Linked DNA regions of Homo sapiens. The protein of the gene in region 2 purifies or fractionates together with the protein of the main gene of each other region. This does not show direct contact. Each region holds a gene or a part of one and is shown on either strand. Other genes may lie near its edges. The genes, in order: MAP3K21, NCALD, TPP2, SH3GL2 and ANKRD33B.

Region 1 (6,034 bases), on a different chromosome or scaffold from region 2:
CAAATCCTATGAAACTTTGCTGTATAAAAGAGCCTATAGAATTGCTGTTTGATGTTGGTTCTTTAATATTGAAGATCGCTTCATATTCTTATAATGAGATGAAATCCCAGGGAAGGTTAAAGGATGCAGCCAGCCCTGGCATTGGCCTACAACAGCTGGAGGTCTTTCAATCCTGTGAAACCTGCTAGGACAGGAGCTAGCTCAAGTGAAAACATTGTCCCTAAAGAAGAGTGACAAGAAGAAATTTACTTGAAAATTACTAATGTAGCATTTTCACTGGGAATTGTAAATAATTGGAATGTTGTAGCTAAGCATAAGCATTAGGTTTTATTTCATGATCCTCCTTCCCCCCAAGTCTCTCTATAATTTAGATTGCATCTGCTTAGGTGATGAGAGCAAAGTCTAACAAAATATGTTGTTACTGGTAGCGGTGTATTCTTAGTACTTTGACAGACCACATGAAGGACTATAGCATTGCTTGCTTTTGAACTGTGTTACAGTAAAAACAGAGCGCAATTTCCTAAAATATACTTTTCTTTCGATAATATATATATATTTTTTTCAATAAAAGAAACGTCTGACCAGGTGCTGCCATAGAATGGGTGACTTGTCCATGTGTTCCATAAGCCCTATTTCCAATGGTGTCCTGAAAGCCTGCGTCTGTTAGGAGTTTTCTGCAGAACCAGGTATTTTAAGGACATCAACAGCACCATTCATTCTTTCCCCTGCCTCTTGGCAGTTGCAGCAACTCTGTGACAACACAGAACCCAACATTCTGCAAATGTATCCAAATCATCAACACAAGCAAACACTTGGGTTGTACTGGTCCTTAGGCTAAAAAGTTAAAGGGCCTATAGCTATTACTTTTACACTGCACTTAGTTTTGTTTGGTTGCAATACTTTTCAAAGTTCATACAACACAGGGTAGAGAATGTTTGCTAGTGTTTTTAAAGCATGTTTTAAAGGATGTTTATCCATTCCTATGGGTTAATCCATAGGATTTATGGATCAATCAACAATCCATAGCAATTATTGCAAATAGTAAATTTTTATAAAGTTTTATAAAGTTTTATAAACTTTTATAAAATATAAATGTTTAAAGAACTCCTAATATTATTAAATGGTAAAAAGAAATAACATGACCCTGGAATAATAACTATGGCCGAACAGTTTTTACTGACACCAGAAAAACTTGTATAGTGGAGTATAGACTACTGTGTATTCAGTAGATATTACATAATTTGATGGTGATTACATGCTGCTACTTAGTTTTTGAAAGACTTTTCAGTCTCAGAATAAATTGCCAAACTTCCCGGAGTATTTTAATTTCTATAATTGTCAGGCAGGATTCCCTTTGCTTTAAATTGTTGCACTCTTATAAAAGACTTAATTAGCTAGTCACTAGCCTGGCCAAGTATTTGTTACAATATGACCATTATCATAGTTATTTAATTACTATAAAGTGAAGAGTTTGACTGGGGTCTAGAATGTGCAAACCATGGTGCCTCATACATGGTCTTTATCCTGAATGTCTGATTTTATTTGTTCAATGAATAAATGCAGATTTGAAATTCTCTGCTGATATATGAAGCTATGACTTCTTGTTTAGACTTTTAAGTATAACAGATACTCTATTGCAGTATGTTTTGTTTGATTTTATTGGATATTTGCTAATGGTGGTAGTGAGTTAGTGATAACGTAAACAAGGTTTTAAAAATCAATATTGAATTTTATTTTCACTCCGAAGTGTACTCATGTACCAAAGAGCTAATAGAAGACTACTTGGAGCCAATTCAGTGGAAATTACTGTTTTAAACAAATATTTAAATTTGTCTAGAGAATATGTTACTCTTGACAGATTTTCTTTTATCTTTTCTAGTAGATCTTCTCAAGTTTTATCATATCTTGTGAGGGAATGTCTGTGTCTAGATAATAGCTGATATGTTGTGAATGATATAAACAACTTTGTCCCTTTTCTAACAGGTAGCAACAGGTTGAAAGTTGTGCCAAGTTAGCAAGCTTTAAGCAACATTTATGTTTTAAATAAATACTAGGCCCTGTAACTCCCTTCTGGATGCAAAATAAGTAGAAAATACTTTATATAAGTCTACCTATAGGCACCCCCCAGAGAACAATACAAGGCAACTTTGAGTTACTGTGAAAATCGCCAGTGTTATGCGCATTTACAGAAGAGAGAAACATTGTGGAGAGCTGGAACTCATTCAACACTGTTGGAATGCCCACCCTGTGCCAGTCACTTCTGGGCCTCAGGGACACTGGCAAGCCAGACATCAATGACAACAAATCTGCCATCATAGAGCTTAGTCTAACGGGGAAGATAGATGGCAGTCACGTAATAACAAATAGATTAGAAAATGCCATCAAGAAAATTAAGCATGGTAAGGGGTGGAGAGTGGTAGAGTGGAGGATGGGGGTGCTGTTTCACACAGGGGCTCTCCAGGGAAGGCACTCCGAGGAAGGACCACGAATTCGTCAAGCAAAGACCCAGGCAAAGGAAAGAGGAAGCAAAAATGAGCCTTCCATATTGGAGGCCTAAGGAGAAGGCTGGTGAGGAGAGGCATGCGTGGGGCAGGCCTGGCAGGCCTCCCTCTGCTGTGCACATGGAGGTTTCACTTGGAGTGATGGTGCTGGCTTCTGTGAAGAACGGACTGCAGTGGGCTCAAGTGATGGCTTTCAAGGTTGTCTATATGAGAGGAGGCACCGACTCTGCCCAGAGTGGTAGCAATGGAAGTATTTTGCAGGGAGGTTACCAGGGGGCAGTGAAGATAAAATACTGCAATATAAGAATTCCCAAGGATGGTTTGAAATATTAGAATTTTGTTTAAGAGTTTTATTTATCAAATTGCAGAAGTGCAAGATTGAAGTAAGATTATGTGGCATCATGTATGGTTTCCTTTTTCTTTTTTGATGTTGCTTATTGTGTTCTATTTTTTTTTTCTTAAGAGGAAATAAACTTTCCATGGGGAACTGAGCCACAAATTATGGTAGCTACTTACTTTTATACTTTTTATGTCAGTGATTAAGCATTTATTATCTCAATTTTTTTAGTCTTTTAGGAATAATTATTATCTATCTACAGTATTATTTACAACTACAATAGTTGTATTTATTATGAAATGCCATTTGGAGCTCTTACTATGACAAACTGCAAAAGGAATATAAATTTTGTTTTAGCTTTTTTTCATTAGTACTGTGTAAATAAAAGAACTATCTGAGAAAATTATGGAAAATGTAATCTCCAGATAAGATGTTTAAATAGCTCATCAGAGTGATTTGGGGAAGCTACTAATTTCACTATTATCAGTTGTAAGACATAAGTTCCTTCTCTCTTCTGTTCTTATACTCAGGACATGTAGCTTCATGCTATAGCTGCTTCCTATTCCAGGAGGCACAGAGAAGTCAGTCCAGATGTCCCAATGGTAACTGAGATCTACATCTGCTTTTGAAACAAAGTTAGTGAAAGATTAGACTTTTAGAAGAATGGCAATCACAAAAGAGTCACCACATCTTCCCCCATCATTTTCATGTTTGCGTATTAAAAAGTAAGTAGCTGGCCAGGTGTAGTGGCTCATACCTATCTATCATCCTGGCACTTTGGGAGGCCAAGGTGGGAGGATCGCTTGAGCCCAGGAGTTTGAGACCAGCTTGGGGAACATGGTGAGACCCTGGACTACAAATATTAAAATTAAAAAAAAAAATAGGCAATGTCTTATTTTTTTGTAGTTGTGAGGGGTATAGCTAGTTAGTTCTGAATTATGCAAAGTATCCGTATTTGATCAGTTTTGTAATCATTATCAAGTATATCAAAGCAGGGTAAAGGAGACAGAGGAAAGTATTTATCTGCTCTACCCATTTAAGAAGGTCATTTGTAAGCCCTGCTTTTTCACACTAGCATTTAAGTGCTAAACCTACCAGAATAGTGCAGCTAAGGGAAACAGCATTGGCTTTTTTGTGTGTGTTTTTGTTTTTTTGAGACGGAGTCTCGCTCTGTCCCCAGGCTGGAGTGCAGTGGCACGATCTTGGCTCACTGCAAGCTCCGTCTCCCGGGTTCACGCCATTCTCCTGCCTCAGCCTCCCGAGTAGCTGGGACTACAGGCGCCCGCCACCACGCCCAGCTAATTTTTTTTTGTATTTTTAGTAGAGATGGGGTTTCACCGTGTTAGCCAGGATGGTCTTGATCTCCTGACCTCGTGATCCGTCCGCCTCGGCCGCCCAAAGTACTGGGATTACAGGTGTGAGCCACCGTGCCTGGACTTTTTTTTTTTTTTTTTTTTTAATACAAGGTCTTGCTGTGTAGCCCAGGCTGGTCTCAAACTCCTGGAGTCAAGCCATCATCTTTCCTCCTCAGCCTCCCAAAGTGCTGGGATTACATGTAAGAGACACCACCTCTGGCTCTATCTAGCATTGCCTTTAAAGTCAGTCAGATCTGGATTTGAATATCAGTGTCCTCATTTACTAGCTGTGTGACCTTGAGCAAGTTATATAACTTCATTGAGACTGATTGTCTTGATTTCTGATACTGTATTCGTTTCTTGGGAGATCTGTCAGAAGTCCTGTAGGGAAAATCTGTTTAATGTTTCTTAACCCATTAAAGCCAATTAGGTAAATACTGGCATAAAAACATATGGCTTTTTCAGGGAACAATGAGTAGTTAGGTGTAACTAGAATGAAAAGTGGAGAAAGGGTTTTTTTGGGGGGGAAGGAAACAGGCATTTCGCATGTGGTCAGGCAGTGAGTGCCATGGATGCCATACTAAGATGTGTGGACTATTTAAGAGGCAAGGGAGAGCCATTGATGGTTATTGAGGAGTAGTGTAGTATGATCTGCTGCAAGAAAACACATCTACAGAGAGAGAAACATAAGCTTGCGGTCATTGCTTTATGACTGTACTATCATAGATTGTCAGAATGGCAATAATAAAAACTAAAATAACTTACTTAGACATTGGTTTGACCACATTGTTTATCATTTACAATTCAAGCCTAGTTTTTAGCATCACAATTTGTTTACTGAATTAATTTAGACTACATTTTCTCTCTGATTTCTTTCTTTCTTTTTTTTTTTTATTATACTTTAAGTTCTAGGGTACATGTGCACAATGTGCAGGTTTGTTACATTTCTAACTACTTCCAAAATTGGAAAATATTCTCTAGCTTTACCGTGTCAGGCTGATGATCTTAACTCCAAATGTTAATGACTGTCCCCAAACTCTCTGAGGCTCCCCAAACCCTCTGAGGCAATCCAGGGCTCCCGAAAAATAGAAGCACCCCAATGAAGGAATTTTAATGGGCAGAGGGTTTTGTGGGGGACCTGGGAGAGCTGTGATGGCTTTATTTTGGAGCCTGAAACTTAAATTTGTACAGTTGACCCCTTGGCAGTGTGAATTTAGTTTTTAAAATTCATCTTCTCCAAATATTGCTTCACGTTGAGTGCTTTTAACTAAATAATAGTATTAATAATTGCAAAACCACGATTACTTGTACACCAACCTAATAGTAACAAGATGAGTTTTTAACATTTATTTAGGGCATATTAGATGCCGAGCACTACTCACAATTTATCCTCATTTATTTGTCACTACAACCTTTTGAGGTGGCGCTCTAATTATCCCCAATTTACAGGTAAAAAAAAAACTGAACTCAATGATTAACTGACTTGATCAAAGTCATTCAACCCATCAGAGGGGAGTGCTAAGAATTAAATCTGGGACCTCTGATCCTGGAACTTGTGTTTTATTGTCTCCGTATATTGCCTGGATTAACAGTTCTCAAATATTTGCTTTCAGGACTCCCAAAGAGCTTTGGTTTATAGCAATTAATATTTATCATATTAGAAATTTAAAATGATACATTTTAAAAATGTTTAATAATATGAATATAACAATAGACCCCATTACATCTTAACGTAGCATTTGTAATGGGAAAACCCCCATATTTTCCCAAACAAATTTAATGAGGATGGTGGCATTTATTTGCACTTGTAGAGTTCACTTTAATGCCAGACTTTGGGAGAA
Region 2 (6,034 bases):
AGCACCGTCATTTAACAGCACTATCTTTGATGAGGTACACTTTGACATTTACTTCTTTTACTCAAAATGTGGAATTATCATTATAGTTTTTCCAGGTAGCAGAGATTTTCTTGGTGCTGTCTCTATGACATTTTAAATTAAAGTCTTATAATAATTGTATTCAATGCTCTTTCAAAATAGACTATATTTCAGCGGTATGAAATACAAGAGAATAATTCAGCGTTGATGGCAAAATCTCAATGATGAAGTTTATCACTAAAAGAAAACAACCTATGCTGTGAAAGCAGAGATGCTCTAGAATCTACAGGTCTTTTCCTATGGGAAAATAAGAGAAAAAAAGACTGTCATCAGAATCATTTTACAGCATTGAGACTATGTTGATTTCAAGGTCATGTTTGTTGCAGCTTCAAAAGATGCTGGCAAGGAACGAGGTACTCTAGAAACCTGGCTGTTGCATTATTAAATATTTTGTGTATAGTTTCGGACATTCTTAACCCGTTTGGTGCTGTGGACCTCTTTGGCAGCCTGGTGAAGCCTATGTACTTTTCTCAGAATTATGTTTTTACATGCATAAAATAAAGTATGCAGGTTTACAAATCAAACCACTTTCATTCATTGAAAAACGTTAACTAAATTTTACAAAATTGTGATACATGCTTTGTTAGTAACACATTATTACATAATACAAACTAACAGCAGTTATAATAACTACCATAACTACCATAATTTTGAAGTAATGGTGAGCATAAAAGATATTTCAGGATATCTACAACAACTGTAAAATGAGGTGAAAATATCTGTGATTTCTCTTGGCAACAATATCACAGGTGCTGTGGCTTGTGGCCTACATTTTAATTGAAGGAAATACTAAATTTCAGTTTGAGGTTAGTGAAACTAAAGATATAATATTTTTCCCAACCAAGTTCCCCAGGCCCTCTTGAATTTTATCCACCCCTGAGTCAATTGATATGTACGTTAGTGATGCCAAAAGGTGATAGAACTGCACTGGACAAAACCCATCACCCCATTTCCACATTCGGTTCCACCGCATCGGATTTTATTCTTCGAGTGTGTGAATTTTGCAATGTTCTCTAAATTCTGCATGAAAAGGAATAATATGTTCACATAGCTACCAAATTGTAACTTTCTTTTATTTTCCTCCTTGAGATCCATTAACAACAGTCTTATGTCCCCTGGATTGGGAAACCCTTACCTGGTTAGACAGGGGTTAAGAGGAAAACTCATAGTGTTAGTACAAGTTATGCGAGTTAAAACCATGGGCCACAGAAGGTAGTTCATGTGCTCATAGCATTTGAAGCAAGCATTAAAGAATGCATGTGGCTTTCCAGCTTAATGTAAAGCACATACACGTGTGAATTGATCAATTGTCATGTTAATTCCAGATACTCAAGAGAGAGCCCTAAAGGTTTATCTGACAGAGGTCTCTAGGATGAGGCATGTTTGAAATTAAGCTGGAAGTGGAGACACTTCCCAAGTATCTGAATGCAGAACCTTATTTGGCTTATTGGATATTTAAGACCAATACAGGGGGTATTAATAGTATTGTTTAGTGTGACTTATGTAAGTAGTTGTCTCATTCAACATGTTTCTTTAAATGTGCAGAAAATAGTGCCTGATATTCCTCTCCAAACCAACAGCGTAACTTTGCAGTTGGTCAGCTGCCGTCACAGCCCTATATTCAGAATGTCCAAAGTCATCCTTTCTATGACATCAACACCCACTGTCTCCGCGTAAGAGAATGGGAGCTATGACATTTTGCACAAGCTGTTGTTTAAATTCAATCCAAATCCCTCGCATTTGAAATGGAAGCTTAGCAATTTGTCTTCGTGTGTTCTCAAAGGAATTACGAAAGAGATGTTCTCAAACGTTTCTTATTCTTTGGATTAGAAAAGAACACTTGCCTTGGGAGCTTTGAGTCTCTAGCAACTTGATAAAGAAACTTGGAAAAAGTTTAAAATCTCTGACTCCAGGCTGTACTGTTTGCTTCTCAAGCCAGGTGTTTGAAACTTTTCAAAAAGGAATGTGCCATTATTTTTCATAAAATCCACATTTATTTAACTGGTGCTTCATGATGGAAATCTAACTAGAAATAGCATTCCAAAATGTAGTATTTTTTATTGTTTTCAGAAGTGATACCATAAAAGTTAATGTTCACTAAGATTTTGATATAAAAATTATATGATAAATATTGAAATTCACTGGAGCCAAACTAAAAACAGTCTGCCCTTTTTATCTCAGTAGTGAACTTTAGGGGGTTTTTTGCATGTATTTTCATAAGTGCCTTTAAATAAAGACACGGCATCCCTTTAAAATTTAGTTTACATTAATGTAAACCAGAATATTCTCAGGTCACAATGCAGTTTTATATTTGATTTGTAGGAAATAAATCTCTAGCCTGAAAGACATTCCAGCTGTTGCCTGTCTTCATGGGAGGATTGTTCACATTTTCTGAATCTCTCCCAGTGACTGCAGGAAGACCAAAGGCTGCACATTGCTTTTATGCAAGGATGAATTTTTTTAAAAGATGATTTTGGATTTTGTTTGCTTTAATGAATTTAAGCCCTATCTATTAGAGGTAAATGTCAAGAAAACTGTTGTGTTCTTTGGCTATCTGCTCTGCTGACTCCCACAGACTTTGATATGATTCATATAACTCAAACCATGATCAGGTTTGTGACGACCATATTTACAATATCGTTGGAGATCAAAAATAGCATCTCACAAAAGTTTCCCCGTCCTATACCTTCCCACATCTTATCATGGATCATGTGCAGCACAGTCACTCAATTGGCGAACATTTATTAACGGACTACTGCATTCACAGTATTATAGTAGGCATGTGAGGTCCTCCCCTGATGGGATCCTCAAGTGAGATATGCTGCTGGCATAGAGAACCCAAGGGCCTTTATGGACCCTGGCTTTTGTTTGCTTGAGCTTTTATTCAAACATTCAGTCTTTCATGCATTCAGCAAATTTTGAGCACATACTACGTGTCAGGCATTGAGCCAGACCCCAGGGTTGCTATAAGGTACAAGACAGGGCAGGTCCCTTCCATCATGGAATATGCAGTCTAACTATGTAGAGAACTTGCCCAGAGACCTATATGTACTATTAACTGGGGTTCTCTTTCCCACAGCCACACTGGCCACTGCAGTCCAAAAGAGAATTCTAAAAGGAAACAGTACAAAACAGAACATCAAAACAAAACAGACAAACAACCTGGGAACCATTAGGTTTTACACCAGAGTGAAACCCCAGAAGAGACATTCTGCAGCTGGTGAACAGCCGGCCTCATTTGTGAGCAATCTGTTCCCATCAGTGTCAGGGATTCCAGGTCGGTATGCTCAGTCCTATTCCCAGTTGGCCAGAGGCTATTTGTCCTCTAGTTCAGAAGACAAATGAGACTGGTAGGGACCGACCTAGAGAGTATTTTCTTTTATGCAAATACCCTGTTTCATACAAATAATGAAAACCATTGTATTTTATGAAAGGAGTCTTTAAATTAGTGATATTTCCAAAAATATCTCTCCCGTCTTCCCTGTACTAACCCAGTCAGGACAGGGTCACTGCTGTAATAAATAGCCCCCAATCTTAATGGCATAATCCAACACTGTTCATTTTTCACTCACCCAGAAATCAGGATTGGGCGAAGGGCTCTGCTCCACACAGTCCTCCAGGGACTCAGGCTCCTTCTATCTAGTTAAACTGATCAGGGGCCTGTTTCTACCACTTGCTAGTGATACTCTGAGCAAGTTACCTAAATCAGAGTTTTCTTATGTGAATAATATTAGGGCATCCCTCTTGGATTTTTGAGTCAATTTACTTGGCATAGAAACTGACAGGTATTAGGTACTCAATAATGTGAACTGCTGTTATTAATCTTCTACTTCTGGTAGTGCTGCCACCACCATCCCCCGAGGAGGCAGGAAGAATCCGTCAGAATTGGAAGAGTATTATAATAATAGCTAACACTTAGGAAGCTGGATAGTCTTCAAAGTTCTTTTCAAAGTAACTATTTTTTAACAACATTCTAGTTTTATAAATGAGGAAATTGAGGCACAGAGAGCTTAAACAAATTGCTGAGTGTCACACAAGTATACAATAGAGCTCTAGGCATTTGGCTTCAGAGTCCTGGCTCTTTATTCACTATACTATATTGCCTTTCAACTTGGAATATACAGCAGAGCCTCAAATACCGTCATTTCATTCAACATCGTTTTGTTGTAATGTTAATGAGAAAAAATAATTGGTTTTGTTGTCAATGATGTTGTGAGGACTTACTATTATATATTGTATTTTCCCCAGAATTAATGTTATATGTTGTGGCAGATTGTATTCAAAAATAGCCTTACAATTGAATCCATTACCACATTAAAAAAATTTTTTTTTAGAGATGGGTTCTCACTCTGTTGCCCAGGCTGAAGTGCAGTGGTGTAATCATAGCTCACTGTAACCTCAAACCTGGGCTCAAGCAATCATCCCACCTCAGCTGCTTGAGTAGCCAGGACTATAGGCGTATGCCACCATGCCCAGCTAAATTTTTGTTTTTATTTTTATAGACTTGGGGTCTCACTATGTTGCCCAGGCTGGTCTTGAACTCCTGTCCTCAAGAGATCCTCCCACCTTGGCTTCCCAAAGGGCTGAGATTACAGGCATGAGCCACTGCATTACCATATGTTCTTCTAGAATCTTGCTCCTCTCCATCAGGAGGTGAAGTCTATTGCCCCTCCCTTTGAACCTAAATGGGCTTATGATTGGTCCAACTGATAGAGTACAGTGGAAATAATGCTAGGTGACTTCCAAGGATAGATCATAAAAAGAATACAATTTTTTTCTCTCTTGCTATTCTTTTTCTTCTTGACATTTTCCCTTAGAATCCAGTCACCATATTGTAGGAAACCCAGACCACATAGAGAGGCCAAGAGTAGGTATTTCAGCCAACATCTCTTGCTAAAGTCTCAGCCGACATCCAGCATCAACTGGCAGGCATGTGAGTGAGCAAGCTGTCAGATGACTCCAGGCCCGGTCATCAGGTCTTCCTTCCCCCTCCTGATGCCAGGGAATCACAGATGCACTATCCCTGCTGAGCTCTGCCCCAGGTTGCAGTTTCATGGACAAAATAAAAGTTGTTACTGTTTTAAGCCCGTAAGATTTGGGGTGTGGGGGGGTAATTTCTTAGGCAATCAGAGTAACTGGGACATTTGGGTAATTAGAAATGAGTGAAATGCCTGTGTAGAGGGCTAAACTTCAGGTACATATGGATTATTAAATAGACTTTTGTGATTTGGCCTAACCTAACCTAATTTCTGGAGGAAAATATATTTCTGTTACCAACCAAATTACAAATGAGCTTTTGGAAATTTGGAACAATGTCCTACAGGTTAATGCTGTTGCTGGTTCTAGGAAAAGATTTGGGCTACACTGAGGCCAGACTGCATGCCTTAGCAAGATCTCGCTCATTGGCCCCCACTGACTGGGACCCTCCCTGCAGGAGAGTGCAGTGTGGATGGCAGTACTCGTATCATCTGTCCTAGACCATCATAGGACATGCTCAGTCCTCCTTGTCCACTTTGTCTCCCTCTCCCATACCTACTCTGTCTAAATTGCTGCCTACTTTTCTATTGTTAGAAACTGCTGTATCTTTGACACTATTTTGGCCCATTTCCTATGCTTCTAGGGCAATGTTTTCTGCTCTACTGGTTTGTAGTAAAGCTAGGGTATTCTCCTTAGCCAGGTAAAATTTAGCTAATTCAACAAAATCTTATGCCTCTTAACAAAATTGCCAAAATGGCAGCTGTCCCATTGGTCTGTGGCTCCATGTGTTGGTCAAATCTAGCATTTGAAATCCTCAGAAATGTGGTCCTTGTGTCCTTACTCAAAGAGGCATCCCTTTCCCTTCTGCTGTAGAGAAATCAATGCCCCAACTCTCTTCTCACTTACTTAAACTTCACCCCATCCTAATAGTCTACTCCTCTTCCCTTAAGAAGACTCTCATTCATTTATTCATTCAGCA
Region 3 (6,034 bases), on a different chromosome or scaffold from region 2:
TTATTTCACTTCGAAATAATAAAATCACATTTGCTTTATTATATGTGCTTTCAGAAGCTGCCTAGGATCTTTTATGACAAGAAGCATAGGGTTATGAGTAAATAACTATGTATATTTAAATACACCATATCTCTGCAAATGATTTGTCTAACTCTTACTTAGCATAGCTGTTAAAATTTTTGAGTTTTCTTGCTACAAACAGGAAAAGTTTGAAAACAGAATTGCTCTGAAACAGCTAGTATTTATATTCTGTAATTTGAGAAAAATAAGAAAAGAGATATATTTTATTTACTTTTATTTGCAGGGTGGAAAAGCAATTGAATTTTGCATTGCTCGTTGGTGGGCAAGTCTCAGTGATGTCAACATTGATTATACCATTTCTTTCCATGGGATAGTGTGTACTGCTCCTCAGTTAAACATTGTAAGTTCCACAACATTTTCATGATTTTTAATGTCAGTTACTTGTGTTACTGGAGAGTAACTTCATTGGTTAGATTTAAACTTTAATGAGGGGAAATTACCTGTGGTTCTGAAGATAGCAGTAGGCTTTGTGTGTGGGTACTTATAAACTTTATATTGGACACATTTATTTTAGGTACAAAATATTGCTTATTTTTAGTAAAGTTTGAGAAAGTAATTTGAGAAATCCTTTGTAGCATGCATCGGAAGGAATCAACCGCTTTGATGTTCAGTCCTCCTTGAAATACGAAGATCTGGCTCCCTGCATAACTTTGAAGAACTGGGTCCAAACACTGCGGTATCATTCAATGTTTTAGGAACTACAGATATTGAATATAGATTGGGGGGATCTCTTACACTCTTAAAAAAGGGCCTTTTTTTTTTTTAATCCACCTGCATGCTAGAGGTGAGAATTTTATCCTTGCCAGCAGATCTCTGCAAGGCAGCCCCAGTATCAGCTTCTAGCTTCACTGTCCCACCTGACCAGCAAAGTCAAGGATGGTGGATAGCCGATCCCAGTCATGACTAGTTAGGATCAGTGGACATTAACCTTTTTATTTCTTGCTGTAAAATAGCAAGTTAACATTCTCTCTGATATTATTTTGTGAATCCTAATGCAGTCATTTTTAGAAACTGCAATACCATTAGAAACTGTTTATTAAATGGTAGAAACTTAAGTACTGTAGCCTGCTGTTTGTGCCTCAGCAGCTCCCCTTACAAAAGCAGGGCACCTTGACCTGTGTTCACATACTCACTGTGTTATAAAGATACCTGGTTTCTTTTGTTTAATCTGACCTTAACTCATCGGCATGAAGCCTAGTCTTAAGTGTATTAAAATAACCAATTAGGGACAATAGTCAGTGACACGGTGATGTCTAAAGATATACTGCTTCCTAGAATTATCAATAAAAATTAAAACATCCAGCTTTTGAAGATATATCCAACTTATATCATCCTGATGTTTTCTTCCTAAATCTAAAAAATTGGAGCTAAATTTAGAGTAGATTATGTTTCACTGACATTTTAAACTATATTTAAAACTTACTCTTCAGTGTCAGTTTTCTCCTTTATAAAATCTGTACATTAGCAACTTCCTTCAGAGGACTACTAAAAATATGAAATAACATTCCCTCGGCCAGGAGGAGGGCTGAGTGTGGCCCCTGCCATCTGGTGAGCAGCAGGGGTCTGGGGAGGTCTGTGCTGCACACAACACAGTACTGTCAACAGTTTGCACAAGGGGTACAAATCAGAACCTGTCTTGCAACACTTTTAGTTGTCACCCTAGTGTTAGGATTTGGTTGTATTGAGAGCTGTTTGTTCACATTTGAAAATGTTTTTGCCATGAAAAGATTGCCTTTGTCATATTTATTGCAAAATCTAAACTGTATGTATTGATATGATTCAATCAAATAATTATGTAAGTTAGTGATTAAAATATTGTAGAGTATACTGAAAAGGATAGCTCTCAGGAAGGTTCATCTGCACTTTTTGCAATATGTTACAGATTTTGTTGCATATGGTTTTATTTGTCTCATTCAATGAACTCTTGAATCAAACCAGTTATGTAGTTTCCTCATTACAGCCCAGTGAGTGCAAAAACAAAACCTTTAGGATCAAGAGATGTTTTGCCAAATAACCGTCAACTTTATGAGATGGTCCTGACATATAACTTTCATCAAGTAAGTGTTTGCCTAGTAAAGTGTACCCTTAGGATGAACTTTTGTGTTTTATTTATGATTCATAGAATCAAAAATGGAAGGACAGTGTATATGGTATATATAAAAAACAGAATCAAGTGATTAACAGTTAATTTGGAATTACTCTTTAGGAAATTATAATTTGTAATTAAATACCATTCAGTTGTAAAGTCACAAAATGTAATTGAGTGGTGACCTAGCCTTAAGCCTTAGTTTATAAAATCACTGATCACTGTCCATTGGTGCCATCTGACCCAGGGGTGATTAGATGGCTCAGAAATACCATCTGCCTTCTGGTGATGGTGCTGGGCCTGATTGCTTTCTGCGAAGAAGGCACTGGAACAGGGAAAGGTCAGAGTAGCTCCCAGGTGGGATGGGTGGCAAAAGTAATGGAGGCCAGTGTAAATGCTGGACCAAAGAATTGTTGTAAGATCAATGAGATTTCAATAAAACTGTTACTGAAACACACATCAGTTTGGTTATAATGTTAGGGAAATGGATTGGTTTCAGTGAATTTTCACATTTCAGTTTTATAAAGTAATTAGAGGTCCTGAAGTATGTATATGTTGCTTTATTAATGAATACACATAGCCAGGTGTGTATTTTTAAAAGTTTGTAAGAGAGCAGTGACTTTTATAAGTGCTAAAATACTGTGTGTTCTATATTTTCAAAATTTTTTACCACAAGTATTTTTAATGTTTTTTAAATGAAAAAGTCTCATGTCAATAACAATATTAAAAATTTGTATCAGAAATTATATGCAAATCATGCCAAGTAATCTTTTTTGTTTTTTAATAGCCCAAGAGTGGGGAAGTAACTCCAAGCTGCCCACTACTTTGTGAACTATTATATGAATCTGAATTTGACAGCCAACTGTGGATTATTTTTGACCAGAACAAAAGACAGATGGGTTCAGGCGATGCCTATCCACATCAGGTATAAAATTGATGGTGATTTTTAGAATTAACGGAAGCTGTTTCCTGAACTAACAAAATCCTGGTTTCTTGTTATGGTAATGTTCATACTTTAAAAAAAACAAAAATTATAGCTTTGTGTTTAGTACTTTTGCAAACTGTGAGAGCCTGTTTGTTGTAGTCGGTGAAGAACAGATGGTGTCAACTATTTCACCATGTAGTTGTGCTGAATTAGAGGAGGACAAGGGTGAACCTTGCCCACACTGGCCAGCATAACTTTTGGTGTGTGGTGTTTCTCCTTCCTATACACTGATTCTACCTATCTGAAGGTAGAATCATCAAAGCATGCATCAAAGAGATGCGAGCCTCTTGAAATGATCCTAAGTCTGAGGGGGCTAAAGAGAGCACTGCAGCAGTGGCCGCATGTCTTCAGTTCATTTGTACTTTTAAATTTACTACCTCGTTGGACAACTCTGTAATGAGCACTTACTACATACCAGGCACTATGCTTTGTGCTGTTTTATTGAAGGGAAAAATCACATAATTTATAGACATTTTATCCCTTAGATATTACTGCAAAGAAATGAGATATTTCCTGTAATATGTATAATTTTATGTTGACAAATGAAAATAATTTATGGAGATTTTTTTCAATTAGTTGTTAAAGGAATGGTATCGATTTTCCTCAAAGCAAGTAGCAGTCACATCTCATTACAGACTGGCCTACTGCAGTGCTATTATTTTGGTTACTTTTTAAATCTCAGAAAAAGTGGCTGACACAGGATACAGCATCTCTTCCTCTTGAACCTGTTAAGTGGATAATAGATTTGTATCCCTTGATCTCTATTGGTTTCCTGTTTTTTTCCTGTCTGTAATAAAGGAGTGACATTTTGGTTGTAATTTGAAGATCAGCTGGGCATGGTGGCACATGCCTGTGATCCCGTCTACTCAGGAAGCTGAGGTGGGAGGATCGCTTGAGCCCTGGAGCTCTAGGCTATGGTGCACTATGATTGCACCAGTTAACAGCCACTGCACTTCAGCCTGGGCAACATAGTGAGTCCCCCTCTCTAAAAGGAAATAAGGATTACCAGTAGTCATAAGTTACACGTGTGTGTGTGTGTGTGTGTGTGTGTGTGTGTGTGTGTATTTGTCCTAGATATTCTATGGTGCCTCAATTTTGCTCATTTTTTTGGTAGTGTTTCTTATATGTCTCTGAGGGACCCATGAACTAGAAAATCACTGCTTTTGTCATTCTCAAGCAGACACTGAGTTTTGCTAAAAGTGTGGGAGTATTCTGTCGTTCTGGAAAGAATGAGGGCTTTGAAGTCAGACCTGACTTCAGCTCTCTTATACTTTACTCTGTGTGATGTTAGGCAAGTCACTTGATGTCCCTGATCCTGTCTGCTCACCAGCGTACTAGGGACTTTATGTGTTATATGAACGTCTGGATAGTTAGTTCCTTGCACTGTACCTCACATATTATGAACAAGTCTGTGAATGGTAACTTTCACTTTATCCTCTTTCAGTGATTTCCGTTGACTTGGTTAAACTTAACTTTTCCCAAATGTTGTTTTTCTTTTTCAGTATTCTTTGAAACTGGAGAAAGGAGATTATACAATTCGACTACAGATTCGCCATGAGCAAATCAGTGATTTGGAACGCCTTAAAGACCTTCCATTTATTGTTTCTCATAGATTGTCTAATACCTTGAGCTTAGATATTCATGAAAATCATAGTTTTGCACTTCTAGGGAAGAAGAAATCAAGCAATTTGACATTACCACCCAAATATAACCAGCCATTCTTTGTTACTTCCTTACCTGATGATAAGTAAGTGATAACATTGCTTATACTTACTGCCCATCGTATACACTGTAGTCCTTTTAATGTCAGTTTATGACATCTAGGCTAAATTTAGAGGATGTAGTCATTTTTTTTTTGGCTGAAGTATTTCTTCCTTTGATTTTTGAAGTCTTAGCTATGGGAATGAATTCAGTGTGGAATTGTTTTCATGTTTTTCCCCTTACTTGTCTTTGTGAAACTTTCTCTTTTGTTGCTTTTTTTCTCTTTGAATTCTCTTGTTTAGAATACCTAAAGGGGCAGGACCTGGATGCTATCTTGCAGGATCCTTAACATTGTCAAAGACTGAACTAGGAAAGAAAGCTGTAAGTATTAGTTTTTTAAACACTGAAATTACCTATTAAAAAATTTCATTTCTTTAAAGATAAGAATTAATTCCACATTTCAGAATGGATAAAAGAGAAGATATACTCTTGGGGAAAAAAATTTAATCCTTTTTTCCCAGGTTACTAGTGAAAGTCAGTTAATATTTAGTTGTCTTTTAAAATGTATGCTACTTTTGAAATATTTAGGCTTCTTTTTCACAAGCCTACAGTACTCAGGCCCTGAACCTGTCTTACCTCCTACGGCTAATACACTTGAACTTCCTGTGAAACATGTAAATACAAATCAAACTTGGCTTAAATACATGTGATATTTAAGATTAGAACATGTTATAGAAATTTAACCAATAAGATTGGTTGTCCATATAAGATTATGGACATAGGAATAAATCAGATTATCTTGGGGTGCTTTTAAAAAGTAGTCAGAACAATTACCCTAAAACATGTTTCTTCACACTTCTACAGACCTATCTCATTGGAATTTCACATGGTTAAGTAGGAAAATATGAGATGTTTCTTTTGGTATTGCCTTTTAATTTCAAAATGATGCTTTTTTTAGAAATATGTTTCTGGTTGTTGTACTTTAGACATATATGTTACAGTTTTATAAGTACCTACCTGTTTTTGTTTTTTCCTTCTATGTTTTCATTACAAATTTATTATGAGAATGATGTTTATATAGATCTATCACCTTTTGTCATAATAATCATTTTAGCTCAATGCCAGTAAAAGTTGTCATTCTTAACAGTTTTGCATTTCTCTGTACTATTACTTCTTACAGA
Region 4 (6,034 bases), on a different chromosome or scaffold from region 2:
CTTCGATATTACTAACCTTTTTGATTGCTCTACTGGTCACTTCTCTATAGCATATCTCAGCACTGCGTTTACCAACACATCTTTTTTCCACTTGGATTCTAAAGATTTCTTTTGCAAAGCTTAGTGCCCTCAAAGGCAATTAAGAGTCTTGGCTTTGGAGTGGGAAAGGCTAAGGTTTGAATCCTGCCTCTGCTGCTTCTGACCTTGAGAGAGTATTTAACTTCTGAACCTGTCCATGCTGAAGTGATGATAATTTCCGTTGTCTCTTCAGGGTTGAGGTGAAGAGAAACGAGTGTGTAGAACACACGTATAAAGTGTTCAATAAATTATAGTTATTGACATAAAGGATATTTTTATTAGTATAAAATACTATCCCTTATGCTGTGAAGAAGTTACCCAAGCTAGACCTTTTAGTTTTTCCAACTTAAAAAATAGAGCGCTCCATTTCCGCTAAATCTTGAAGTTCTGTGTCGCCCTAAAGTGTAGAAAAAATAATTTAAACTGCGTTAGGAAAGAACTTAAAAGGTTGGAGAAGGTCGGCATGTGATGCGATACGGTTAATGTTTATCACACCGAATCCAAATGCAGAATCACTGCGTCATTGTCTTCCTTTTACTGAAAAGCCTTTTATTTGAAAGGTGAAGCAGCACGTAGTCTCTTATCCATAATTTAGTGTAGCACACTCTTAGAAAGTCTAAGGCACAGGTGACTGTTCTGTGCATATGTATATTTAGGAGAGTATGTAAAGCCCATGTTAATGTTTGCATGTGACAAAAAAATTAGAGAAATAGTCCTGTCCTACTTTTGTAGCCATTTTTTTCCATCAGGTCCGTGAACCTGATGTTATCTACAGAGAAGCTTTAGACCTAGAATTACTTCCTTTTGAGAACTGATGTGCTGGATAATATAGCCTGGGTTTGTTTGTTTGTTTATTTATTTATTCATTTGAGACAAAGTTTGACTCTTGTCGCCCAGGCAGGAGTGCAATGGCGTGATCTCAGCATACTGCAACCTCTGCCTCCTGTGTTCAGGCGATTCTCCTGCCTCAGCCTCCTGAGTAGCTGGGATTATAGGCATGCACTACCACGCTCAGCTAATTTTTGTATTTTTAGTAGAGACAGGGTTTAGCCATGTTAACCAGGCTGGTCTCGAACTCCTGACCTCAGGTGATCTGCCCGCCTCGATTACAGGCTGAGCCCCCGCACCTGGCCTATAGCCTGGGTTTATAAGTGGAAGGAGTCTGTTCACGCAAACGTTTCTTTCTATGGAATTGAGCTTTTTTGCTTGTGTTAGTAAGCGATGATAAATAAAACAGTATATTGTTTGTACTTGGAATTTCTGATTAAATGTGTCACAACTGTTGTCTTATATTAGAATTGGTTATTTCTACCTTGTTGCTGACAGTTATTTTCAATATGTTTACAATTTGGAGGTAAAAAAATGCTTTTGCCAAGTAAAATTTATTAGAGAAGAAAATCCTTTCAGCATGAAAATATATAATGATACCAAAAATTGATTGATCATCTTATTTTCATGTACTTCATTACTTAATTGCTCATAAAGATATAATTTACTGTATAATTAGAATAAAGTATTCTTTTTTTACTGTAATAAAGGGCAGATGATCTTGTGTTGCTCTTTTAGTGAGTTTTATTCATATTGAGATTTCATTTTACAAAAGTCATGTCAGTTTTTTTACACTTGTTTTAAACTGGCAGCAGCTTAGTTAAAAATAGCTGTTTCCAGTGAACATGAAGCTCCTACAAAATCTGTATTTTTAAAAATTCACTCTATCATGCATATGATGTGGACACATTTTGCTTTACAATATGTAAAAGTCTATTATAAAGTAAAATATATTAGGTCATTTTATGAGTTTGCTGGAGCTGCTGTAACAAAGTACTACAAACTGAGTCGTTTCAACGACAGAAATACATTGTTTCCCACTTCTTGAGACAAGCACACTTGAAGTCTGAGACCAAGGTGCCAGTAGGGCCACGAGCTCTCTGAAGGTATGAGACAGGATCTATTCGAGGCTGCCTTCTTAGCTCTTGTGCTTTGTTGGGAATCTTTGGGCTTCCTTGGCTTGTAGATACATCACCTTGGTCTCTGCCTTCATGCTCACATGACATTCTCCCTGTGTGTGTCTCAGTGTCCAAATTTCCCCATTTTGTAAGGACCCCAGTCATATAGGATTGGGCAAGCCCATCCTACTCCAGTATGATTTTATCTTAAATAATTACCATCTGTAATGCCCCTATTTCCAAATAAAGTTGCATTCTGAGCTATTGTAATTAGGACTTTAATATGAATTTTGGGAGGGGCACAGTTCAATCCATAACAGTCGTTATTTGCATAAAAGGATTAACCACAGTATTCTATATTTGATTCAACATCTAAGAGGACAGTTCAGCCTATAAATAACATATAACTTTCTATTGCATCAAAAAGATATACTTTCTCCTTTTTTAATGAGTTGGTTAGTATATTGCTAAGTTCTGAATGTGTCCCTCTAAAATACGTATGTTGAAGCTTGACTGCCAATGTGACAGTATTAAGAAATGGGGCCTTTAGGAGGTGACTAAGTCATGAGGGCACTCATGATTAAGTCATGAATGGGATTAGTGCTCTCTTAAAAGAAGTTGAAGGGGTCACCCTGTCCCCTTCCACCGTGTGAGGGTTTAGCAACAAGGCACCATCTTTGAAGCAAAGGGTGGGCCCTAGCCAGGCACAAATCTGTTAGTGCCTTCATCTTGGACTGCTAGCCTCCCAAACTGTGAGAAATAAATTCTATTATTTATAAATTACCCCGTCTAAGATATTTTGTTAGTAGCCTGAACAGACTAAGTCAGAAATATACCTATTATAAATTGTGTTTTCTGATTTTTTTAAATGATAAAATTAATTTGGGTAGGCTGGGTTTTATGATACAGTCTGGTATATGTTTATTTGTCACACTCAGATTCCTTAACTGGGAAAATTTCATCATGTTTGTGTTCTGTGTCTTTTTGTTTTACCTAATTTCCTCTTTCAGAATGCTGTATTTTATATGGATGCTTTGCTCAGGAGACCATTACATAAGTCTTTTCATGCATTTGTTGATTTGGTGAGATGTTAAACTTACTAAGTATTGGATTAAATATCTAATTAGTTATGACTTTATCTCAGTGAGATTTTCAGTTTCTTAATTGCCTCTAAGCAGTCAACTCTCTGCTGCCTTTAAAATCTTGGCTGTGGCTTGTTGCTTGACCCAGGATTTCTACACCTGTACCCTTTCACATTCTTAGCCAGTAGTCTCTAATAGGCTGCAAGGGGCCTATATATTTTATAAAATTATAAGTAACATTTTATACATGCATTTTTCTGAGGGAGAATGCCCTTAGCCTGTTACCAGATTCTTAAATAAATTCCTAATTGCTGCCCCTTCCTCCCCTCGAAAAGTAAAAATAGGGTGGGGCGTGGTGGCTCACTCCTGTAATCCCAACACTTTGGGAGGCCAAGGCGGGCGGATCACTTGAGGTCAGGAGTTCAAAACCGGCTTTGCCAGTGCAGTGAAACCTCGTCTCTACTAAAAATACAAAAAGATTAGCTGGGCGAGGTGGCAGGTGCCTGTAATCCCACCTACCCAGGAGGCTGAGGCAGGAGAATTGCCTGAACCCAGGAGGCCGAGGTTGCAGTGAGTCAAGATGGTGCCACTGCACTCCAGCCTGGGCAACAGAGTGAGATTCTGTTTCAAATAAATAAATAAATAAATTCATCATGTCATCAGGAGAAAGTGGATGTTTCTTACAATAATCACTCCAACAGTTCTGTTACTGGGCTTTAGGATGCCTGATCAAAATGCAGCCTTCTCTGCATTAATTTAGCAGCAATCAAATGTAAAAAACCTTTCCAGAGGTGTCAGGATTGAATGAGGTAATGCTTGTGAGAGTGCCATGCTTGCATAATAAGGATCACTTGAACCATGTAAAACAAAATGTTGTTAATGCGCTTGAAGTCAACGATACGGGCCTGTGGGGTATATGAAAAGAAAGTGGTGACTGAAAATGATTTCTCTGTAGACTGAGAGTCCTCGTGATTGAAGTTTGTGTTGTTGAAACAGCTATATTTTTGCAAGCTTTTTTCCCCATAGTGATTCTTTAATATTTTAAATTGAGTTTATATGAATTTTGGTTTCAGTCTACTTAGAAAATTTTAAAGTAACCTGCAAATTAATTAGAAGTACCCTAGAAAATGGCAAGACTTGGTTGGGGCAAATGGTGACTGTTTTGAGACAGATGTCATTGTGGAAGGGAGAGGTTTAATATTCAGGGGAAGGGAGCTGAAGCTTGCAGAGCAGATTCCATTCTGCCAAGCCTCTTGTGCTGCATACAGAGTCTCAGGGCATCAAGCAACCCGAGGGCTTTCTTCAGAGGAGTAGCTTGAGGCAGCGGCGAGAGAAGGGCAGGACACACTGACAAATGAATAATGAGAATTAGGTGAGGAGATGGAGTTTAAGAACTGCTTCAAACTTTAAGGTGGATACCTGATGGGGCTTTCTAGAGATGAGCAATTCTTCTCAATTTAAGGCCAGATAGGGGAGATGCTAAGTAGGTAAGAAGTCAGTGGATTTTTTGGCCTCCTTTTTTCTCTTTTTGTTCTTTTAATCCTTCGTACCCTTGTCCTGTGTTCTTTTAGGTAATGTTCAGTGAGGTGTAGCCACAAGAGGGGACATAGGAGAGGCTCAAGAAAACAGAGTTTATTATACTCACATGTCTTAGAATGACAATCACTGTACAGGAGGATAGGAGGGGGGACACGTGGGGTGGAGGTGACAGCTCTGAGAGCAGGATCAGCTAAGCAGGTGGGAAACAGGTGGGAGCAGAGAGAGCAAGGACTGTGGGCAAGTGCCTTTACTAGTGATCTCAGTGCAGTTCACAGCTCAGTGCAGTTCACAGTGCGTTGCATTGGTGCATTGGTAGGTCGTGGTCAGAAGAAGACAGAGAGGTGAACTTGTGGTAGGGGCCAACCTTATCAAACTTGTGCACCTGGTTACCTGGGTGGGGTGTTCACAGTTAGCGTATGTGGGAATGAATGTTGAGGCAGCAAGAGGCAGCAGGAGACAACATGTGAAGTTTTGAAACTTTGTAGTACAACCCTTCTCAGTGTTTTTGGTTTAGAATTTATTGTTTCCATAATCACTTAAGGAGCCTAAAAGCTTAAGAATGATGTACATGGTATCCGATGGATAATAAAGACTAAAGAGAGCTATAACTATACTTATTAAAATGCCATGATTGTGAGACCCTGCCAAGTCTTTTGCATTCTACCAACAAAATATTTTCATGCTATACTAAATCATTAGCTGATGACAAATGCTTCAGGAAATAATTTCACTATTTATAAAGGTTTTACATTTAGTACAACTTCTAAATGCCAAATATGATGTTGTAGTTGCTCTACCCTAATCTCCCTCCGCCATCCCCTGGGTCAAATTGTATATAGTAGTAATGAATATGGAGAAGCTGTCTGTAATACTCGTGAAGAACCCACAGCTCCATGGAGGTTTACTTGGATACTTAGGACACTGAAGGACCTCTAGGCAGTGTTTTCTGCCTTTTTTTGAATTATGATATATATAAAAAATAGAAATATCTTTTTTATAATTCAAACTAACCTTTCCCCATAGATACTAATGGAAGCAGTTTTATAATGCTGAGAAACATCTCAATATCAAGCTATGTATTAGTCTGTTCTCATGTTGCTAATAAAGGCATACCCGAGACTGGGTAATTTATAAAGGAAAGAGGTGTAATTGACTCACAGTTCTGCATGGCTAGGGAGGGCTCAGGAAACTTACAGTCATGGCAGAAGGGGGATCAAAAATGTCCTTCACATGACGGCAGCAAGGAGAAGTACAGAGCAAAGTGGGGTAAAAGCCCCTTATAAAACCGTCAGCTCTCGTGAGAATTCACTCACTATCACGAGAACAGTGTGGCGGTAACCACCCCTATGATTCAATTACCTCCCACCAGGTCCCTCCCATGACACATGG
Region 5 (6,034 bases), on a different chromosome or scaffold from region 2:
TGCGCGGCGATGTTAGGCGGTGACGTGGAGTTGCGCGGCGATGTTAGCGGGTGACGCGGAGTTGCGCGGCGATGTTAGCGGGTGACGCGGAGTTGCGCGGCGATGTTAGCGGGTGACGTGGGGTTGCGCGGCGATGTTAGGCGGTGACGCGGAGTTGCGCGGCGATGTTAGCGGGTGACGCGGAGTTGCGCGGCGATGTTAGCGGGTGACGTGGGGTTGCGCGGCGATGTTAGGCGGTGACGCGGAGTTGCGCGGCGATGTTAGCGGGTGACGCGGAGTTGCGCGGCGATGTTAGCGGGTGACGCGGCGTTGCGCGGCGATGTTAGGCGGTGACGTGGAGTTGTGCGGCGATGTTAGCGGGTGACGTGGGGTTGCGCGGCGATGTTAGGCGGTGACGTGGAGTTGCGCGGTGATGTTAGCGGGTGACGCGGAGTTGCGCGGCGATGTTAGCGGGTGACGTGGAGTTGCGCGGCGATGTTAGCGGGTGACGTGGAGTTGCACGGTGATGTTAGGCGGTGACGTGGAGTTGCGTGGTAATGTTAGCGGGTGACGTGGAGTTGCGCGGTGATGTTAGCGGGTGACGTGGAGTTGTGTGGTGATGTTAGCGGGTGATGTGGAGTTGCGTGGTAATGTTAGGAGGCAACGTGGTATTGCATGGTGATGTGTGTGGCAATTTCCGTTTTCTATGCTGTGTCATAGAGTGGAAAATTCTCAGGCTATCAACCTGGATCAACCCCTCTTTGTCTTTTGCGCCATCTTGGAGAACGCACTTTCCTGTTCCCATCTGTGAAATGGGAGTAATGACCTCTTTCTCCCTCACCTCCCTGAGGCTAAAATGCAACAATACTTTATACACTCCTAGAGGCTATCCAGCTTCAATGAGCTACTAAGCTAAATGCCACACAACTAATAGCTTTAACTCTTTTCTTCACTCTGAAATAGAATCAATGATCATCCTTCGTGCAACCTCATCGGGTTATTTTGAGAATTAAATGAGAAAATATGTGTCAAGCACATGTCGTGTTAGATTCAGTTAGCAGCTGACATCTCAGTGAATGTGCGATGCTGCTTTCACCATTACTTAATTCTGTTATTTTAATTTCTCTTTATTTTTGTTCTTGGCACTGGGTTCAGCCAGTCCTGCTTGGCGCTGCAAGTTCCTGAAGAAGTGGATTTCCTCTCTGTCTTAGTTGTTCTGCTGCTATAACAAAATACCTCACCTGTGTAATTTGTAACTGTAGAAATTTATTGCTCACACTTGGGGAGGCTGAGAAGTCCAAGATCAAGGTGCCGGCAGGTTCGATGTCTGCTGATGCCCCTTCCTTCTTACTGTCTCCTCTCATGGCAGAGGGGACACCGAGGTACCCTCAAACCCTCTTTCATAAGGCACTAGTTTGATTCAGGAGGGCACAGCCCTCATGATCTAATCACCCCCTAAAGGCCTCACCTCTTAATACTATTCCAGTGGGTCTGAAGTTCCAGCATAGGAATTTTGGAGGGTCGTCAACATTCAGACCACAGCACCACCCCTGTCTTGGTTATCCTGAGGGTGGCATCAGAGTTTTCCCAGGCATCAGTGCTTCCATTAATGTCACTTTTCTGTTCCAGGACCCCTGCTGGGCTCCCACATTTAGTTGTCTTCTTCTTAGTTGTCCCCAGTCTTCTTCTTCTTCTTCTTTTTTTTTTTTTTTTTTTTTTTGAGACAGTCTCACTCTGTCGCCCAGGCTGGAGTGCGGTGGTGCAATCTCGGCTCACTGCAACCTCCACCTCCCGGGTTCAAGCGATTCTCCTGCCTCAGCCTCCCGAGTAGCTGGGATTACAGGCACCTGCCACCACGCACAGCTAATTTTTGTATTTTTAGTAGAGACGGTGTTTCACCATGTTGGCCAGGTTGGTCTTGAACTCCTGACATCCCGTGATCTGCCCGCCTTAGCCTCCCAAAGTTCTGGGATTATAGGTGTGAGCCACCGCGCCCTGCCCCTCATCTTCTTGGGTCTGTGAAGTTTCTGTCATAACCTGTTGCCCATGACGGGACAGTCTTGATTCCAACCAGTGTGCAGCACCGCCCAGTCTGAGCCCGTCTGTTGTTTTTCTCGAGATCAATCTGGAGTTACAGGATTCACAATTGCTTCAGATTTATCTTTCTTTTTGCTTTAACCTTAGGGGATTCTTTAGTCTTAGGAGATGCTATAATAAAAATAAGTTCAGTGAATGAGAATAGAGGCTTCAAAGATGAAAACTTTCTTGGAAATAAAAAAAAAAACATAATTAAAAACGAGTCCTATCGATTGTACTTTTGATTCAGAGATGATAGTTTTATTTTAAAAAAACGAGATATCAGTTTCAACAGAGTTTCGGCCCTGCCTGCCCTCATCAATGAGAAATGGTTCCTACTAATTAAATGGTAATTATGTGATGCTTTTGTGTTTGGCGGGAGCTTCAGACACTTTTACTATTTCTGGATCTAGTTATAATTGGGCGTAGATGTTTGGTAATTGACTTTTTCAACTGAACATTTATGATGTCAGTCACATCACTGCACTTTCCCATTGAATTAATTTGAACTGCAAACCTTTTTTAGGTCAGTTGCCCTCTAATCGCTCCGTTTGACTGCCGTGCTTTCTTCCCTGGGTCTCCTGGGGGTTTCAGGCATGTGTGACAGCATTTAGAGGATTCCAGAAACACCTTGCACATCTCTTGGAACGATGAGTCTGCGGGCAGTGGGTTTACTGCTGACATTGCTCTTCCCCCATCAGTTATTTGGATACAAATTTGACATTAGATTTGAGACTCTCCCTCCCCTATTCTCCACTTTGCAAGCCCATCCCCCATCACAGTCTAGAACAATCCACGGATTATTGTCTGTGGGATCCTCTAGTGAGTCTCTCCCTGTCCTATACGAGGTACAGAGCAGGAGCTGAACAGAAACAGTCCAGGAACCAGGACCCAGTTTCAAATTCATCTTCTCCACTTCCCATCTCTACACCTGCAGCCTGTCACTCACCTCTCTGGGCCCCAGTTTCCTCTTCTATAAAATGAGGCTAATGATAGCACCCACCGCAGGAAGGTGGGATGCGGATTGGGCACGTTCACAACAGAACAGCCCTCGGGTGCATGCTGGGCTTGGAGAAGCCTTCGGACATGTTGGTTGTGATTATTGTTATTATTATGATTATTGGTGAGTTTATGTGTTCAATAGTTATCTGTTAAGTGAATGAAAAAATACGGTTTGTTTTTCCCTTTGAGAAATATCTTGTAAATGAGATACTTAAACTTTCTTAATGAGGGTAGTAAGCCCCTACCTCAGGGTTTTTGTTTTTTGCTTTTTTGTTCTGTTTTTGTTTGTTTGTTTTGCTTTGTTTTGTTTTGTTTTGAGACGGAGTCTCACTCTGTCGCCCAGAGTGGAGTGCAGTGGCGCGATCTCGGTTCACTGCAATCTCTGCCTCCTGGGTTCAAGCAATTCTCTTGCTTCAGCCTCCTGAGTAGCTAGGACTACAGGCATGCACCACCACATCCAGCTAATGTTTGTATTTTTAGGAGAGACAGGGTTTCTCCATATTGGCCAGGCTGGTCTCAAACTCCTGACCTTGTGATCTGCATGCCTCGTCCTCCCAAAGTGCTGGGATTACAGGTGTGAGCCACCGCACCTGGCCAGGGGTTTCTTAATTTCAGCACTACTAACATGCAGAGCCAGATAATTCTTTGTTGTGGGGGCTGTCTTTCAAATTGTAGGATTTTTAGTGGCATCCCTGGCCTCTACCCACAAGATGACTGTAGCACCTCTTCAGTTGTGACAACCAAAAATGTCTCTAGATGTTGCTCAAAGTCTCCCAGGTTGGGGGAAAAATTGCTTCCCATCGAGAACCACTGATATAAATAATTTAAATGGGAAAGGATATACAAAGTGAGAAGAGACATTTTCCCCTCTGTGTACTCTTCCTCGCTTGTTCTGTATTCCTCCCTCAAATAAAAGTGTGACATCTTGGCCGGGCATGGTGGCCCACGTCTGTAATCTCAGCACTGTGGGAGGCTGAGGCGGGTGGATCACCTGAGGACAGGAGTTCGAGACCAGCCTGGCCAACATGGTGAAATCCCGCCTCTACTGAAAATACAAAAAAAATTTAGCCGGGCATGGTAGCACAAGCCTGTAATCCCAGCCACTCGGGAGGCTGAGGCAAGAGAATCGCTTGAACCTAGGAGGCGGAGGTTGCAGTGAGCCGATATCATGCCACTGTATTCCAGCCTAGGCAACAGAGTGAGACTCTGTCTCAAAAAAAAAAAAAAAAAAAAAAGAGAAGTGACATCTTGTTTAGGGAACTTTTGAGCTGCCCTCTTAAGCTTTGGTTGTAGTGTAGAACTTACGGAATATTTTCATCTTCTACTATTACTACTAAGCTTACAGTTCTCCCAAGAAAAGTGGGTTTTATTTTCCTTTGACAGTAGATGGGTAAGAATTAAAAAAAAAAAAAAAAGTGTTGAATTGCTTCCCCAGGATTAGTGGAGAGCAATAAGGACAGATGTTGATATATTTCTAAAATTCACACAAATATTTTAAGTCTTATTCTTTCCATTTAAATACGTGATATTAAGAAAAAAATAAACCATTTAAAGAAACTAATAGCCAGAGCCTTTCTTTTAGATTGACACTTCAGATTGTAATAAAAAGTATAACCGGGTTCTGAGAGGCTGATCGATTGCATCTTTGGTTTGGCTTCGTAAGGAGTAATGCAGGCTCTGCTGAAGAGCATCACAAGGGAGTTGCAGAACCTTGTTAATTCACTGAAATATTAATGCCCACAGTGACAGGTCTATTTAAATAGGTGGCTCTGAGAAGCGTATCGAGGATGTGATTTTTTTCTGAAGAGAGGCAGAATCTGTGGAGGTTGCCAGGTTCCAGGCTTGCTTAAGGGAGCTCACTTTCAGACCTGAAGTGTGGTGTAACTGCCGCAGCCTTCAGGAAGCAAAAACAAGCAGCAATAACCTCAAATCTTCCTGTGATTCCAAGGCGCAAAGTGGATTTAAAGGACGGCGAGGAACAGAGATCAGAGATGCTCCCGCTGTGGGTCAGAGGGTTGCTCTTGTCTCAGGGAAGCCCTGATATCTCTTTCTGGAAAGTCAGATGATTTCCAACCATATAGAGGTTTCTTTCTGTTTATAAGGAAAACTTAAATTTCCTATGAAGTGTGAATTTGCCATGTAGAATTGTTTGAAGTCATTAGCCAGAGAAAGGATGAAAAGTCAAGCATTCTGTGTCACCTGCAAAGCAAACCTCGAGACAAGGACTTGGGGGCAAGTAGTTTTGAGGGATGGTGGCCCCAGGAAGTGGAGTGAGGGGGCAGCAAGTGAGATTGGGAAGAATGGAAGCTAAGAAATGTCCACCAATGAGCAGGTTCCTCTTGTGGGCAGCTGGGACTCAGACCCCCTGGACCCTCCACTATGAGGAAAAGATATCGCAGAGATGCTGGGAAGTTTATTTCCCAACTCCAGTGCCTCTTTGAGGGGAGATGAGAACTTTGAGCACACTTCCCACCTGCTATGTGGTGGGGGTGGCTTGTCCTCCCTGCTGGGCTGGAGCACAAGCTCTTTCTTGGACCCTGCATCCAGATTTGTCATCCCGATTATACCCACAATGCCCAAGATACAGGCTGGAGGTGGCACAAGGGGAGGCAGTGAGGGCTGGTCCACAGTGGTCTCCTGTGGCCAGGAAAGGCCCCCTGGCAAGAGGGAGACCTGAGCTAGGGTTTGTAGAGTGGATAACATGGGGGTGGGTGGGGGCTGGTGGAGAAGCAGGAAAGGAAGTGACACATTCAGGGCTTCACGCTCCACCCACCTCCTGCTAGTCCTGGGCCTGGCCATGGCTCCCAGAGAAAGCCTTCTTGAGAATGAGTGATGGAAAGTATAGATTTTTTTTTCCCATTAGCACCTGTTTGGAATGTTTTTGGCTGCAAGTAACAGAAATCCTGACTAGACAGTGGCTTAAAGAAAACAGGCCGCATTTCTCAGCTCCCTGGAAGTCTGAGGTTGGCAGTCACCC

The links.
Region 1: the proteins of NCALD (region 2) and MAP3K21 purify together in Homo sapiens (affinity purification with mass spectrometry; one large-scale study listed by BioGRID and IntAct). This does not show direct contact.
Region 3: the proteins of NCALD (region 2) and TPP2 purify together in Homo sapiens (co-immunoprecipitation; 2 studies listed by BioGRID and IntAct, with this or other methods). This does not show direct contact.
Region 4: the proteins of NCALD (region 2) and SH3GL2 purify together in Homo sapiens (affinity purification with mass spectrometry; one large-scale study listed by BioGRID and IntAct). This does not show direct contact.
Region 5: the proteins of NCALD (region 2) and ANKRD33B purify together in Homo sapiens (affinity purification with mass spectrometry; one large-scale study listed by BioGRID and IntAct). This does not show direct contact.

Annotation. Positions count from the first base shown.
Region 1 is NC_000001.11:233,329,890-233,335,923, forward strand, and holds part of MAP3K21 (mitogen-activated protein kinase kinase kinase 21), read left to right. Parts: intron 1-6,034. UniProt on the Homo sapiens protein: Negative regulator of TLR4 signaling. Does not activate JNK1/MAPK8 pathway, p38/MAPK14, nor ERK2/MAPK1 pathways.
Region 2 is NC_000008.11:101,783,176-101,789,209, reverse strand, and holds part of NCALD (neurocalcin-delta), read left to right. Parts: intron 1-180; exon of another isoform or gene 181-431; intron 432-3,157; exon of another isoform or gene 3,158-3,355; intron 3,356-6,034. UniProt on the Homo sapiens protein: May be involved in the calcium-dependent regulation of rhodopsin phosphorylation. Binds three calcium ions.
Region 3 is NC_000013.11:102,644,253-102,650,286, forward strand, and holds part of TPP2 (tripeptidyl-peptidase 2), read left to right. Parts: intron 1-304; coding exon 305-421; intron 422-656; coding exon 657-757; intron 758-2,041; coding exon 2,042-2,138; intron 2,139-2,954; coding exon 2,955-3,092; intron 3,093-4,654; coding exon 4,655-4,899; intron 4,900-5,155; coding exon 5,156-5,234; intron 5,235-6,034. UniProt on the Homo sapiens protein: Cytosolic tripeptidyl-peptidase that releases N-terminal tripeptides from polypeptides and is a component of the proteolytic cascade acting downstream of the 26S proteasome in the ubiquitin-proteasome pathway.
Region 4 is NC_000009.12:17,580,769-17,586,802, forward strand, and holds part of SH3GL2 (endophilin-A1), read left to right. Parts: intron 1-6,034. UniProt on the Homo sapiens protein: Implicated in synaptic vesicle endocytosis. May recruit other proteins to membranes with high curvature. Required for BDNF-dependent dendrite outgrowth.
Region 5 is NC_000005.10:10,639,550-10,645,583, forward strand, and holds part of ANKRD33B (ankyrin repeat domain-containing protein 33B), read left to right. Parts: intron 1-6,034.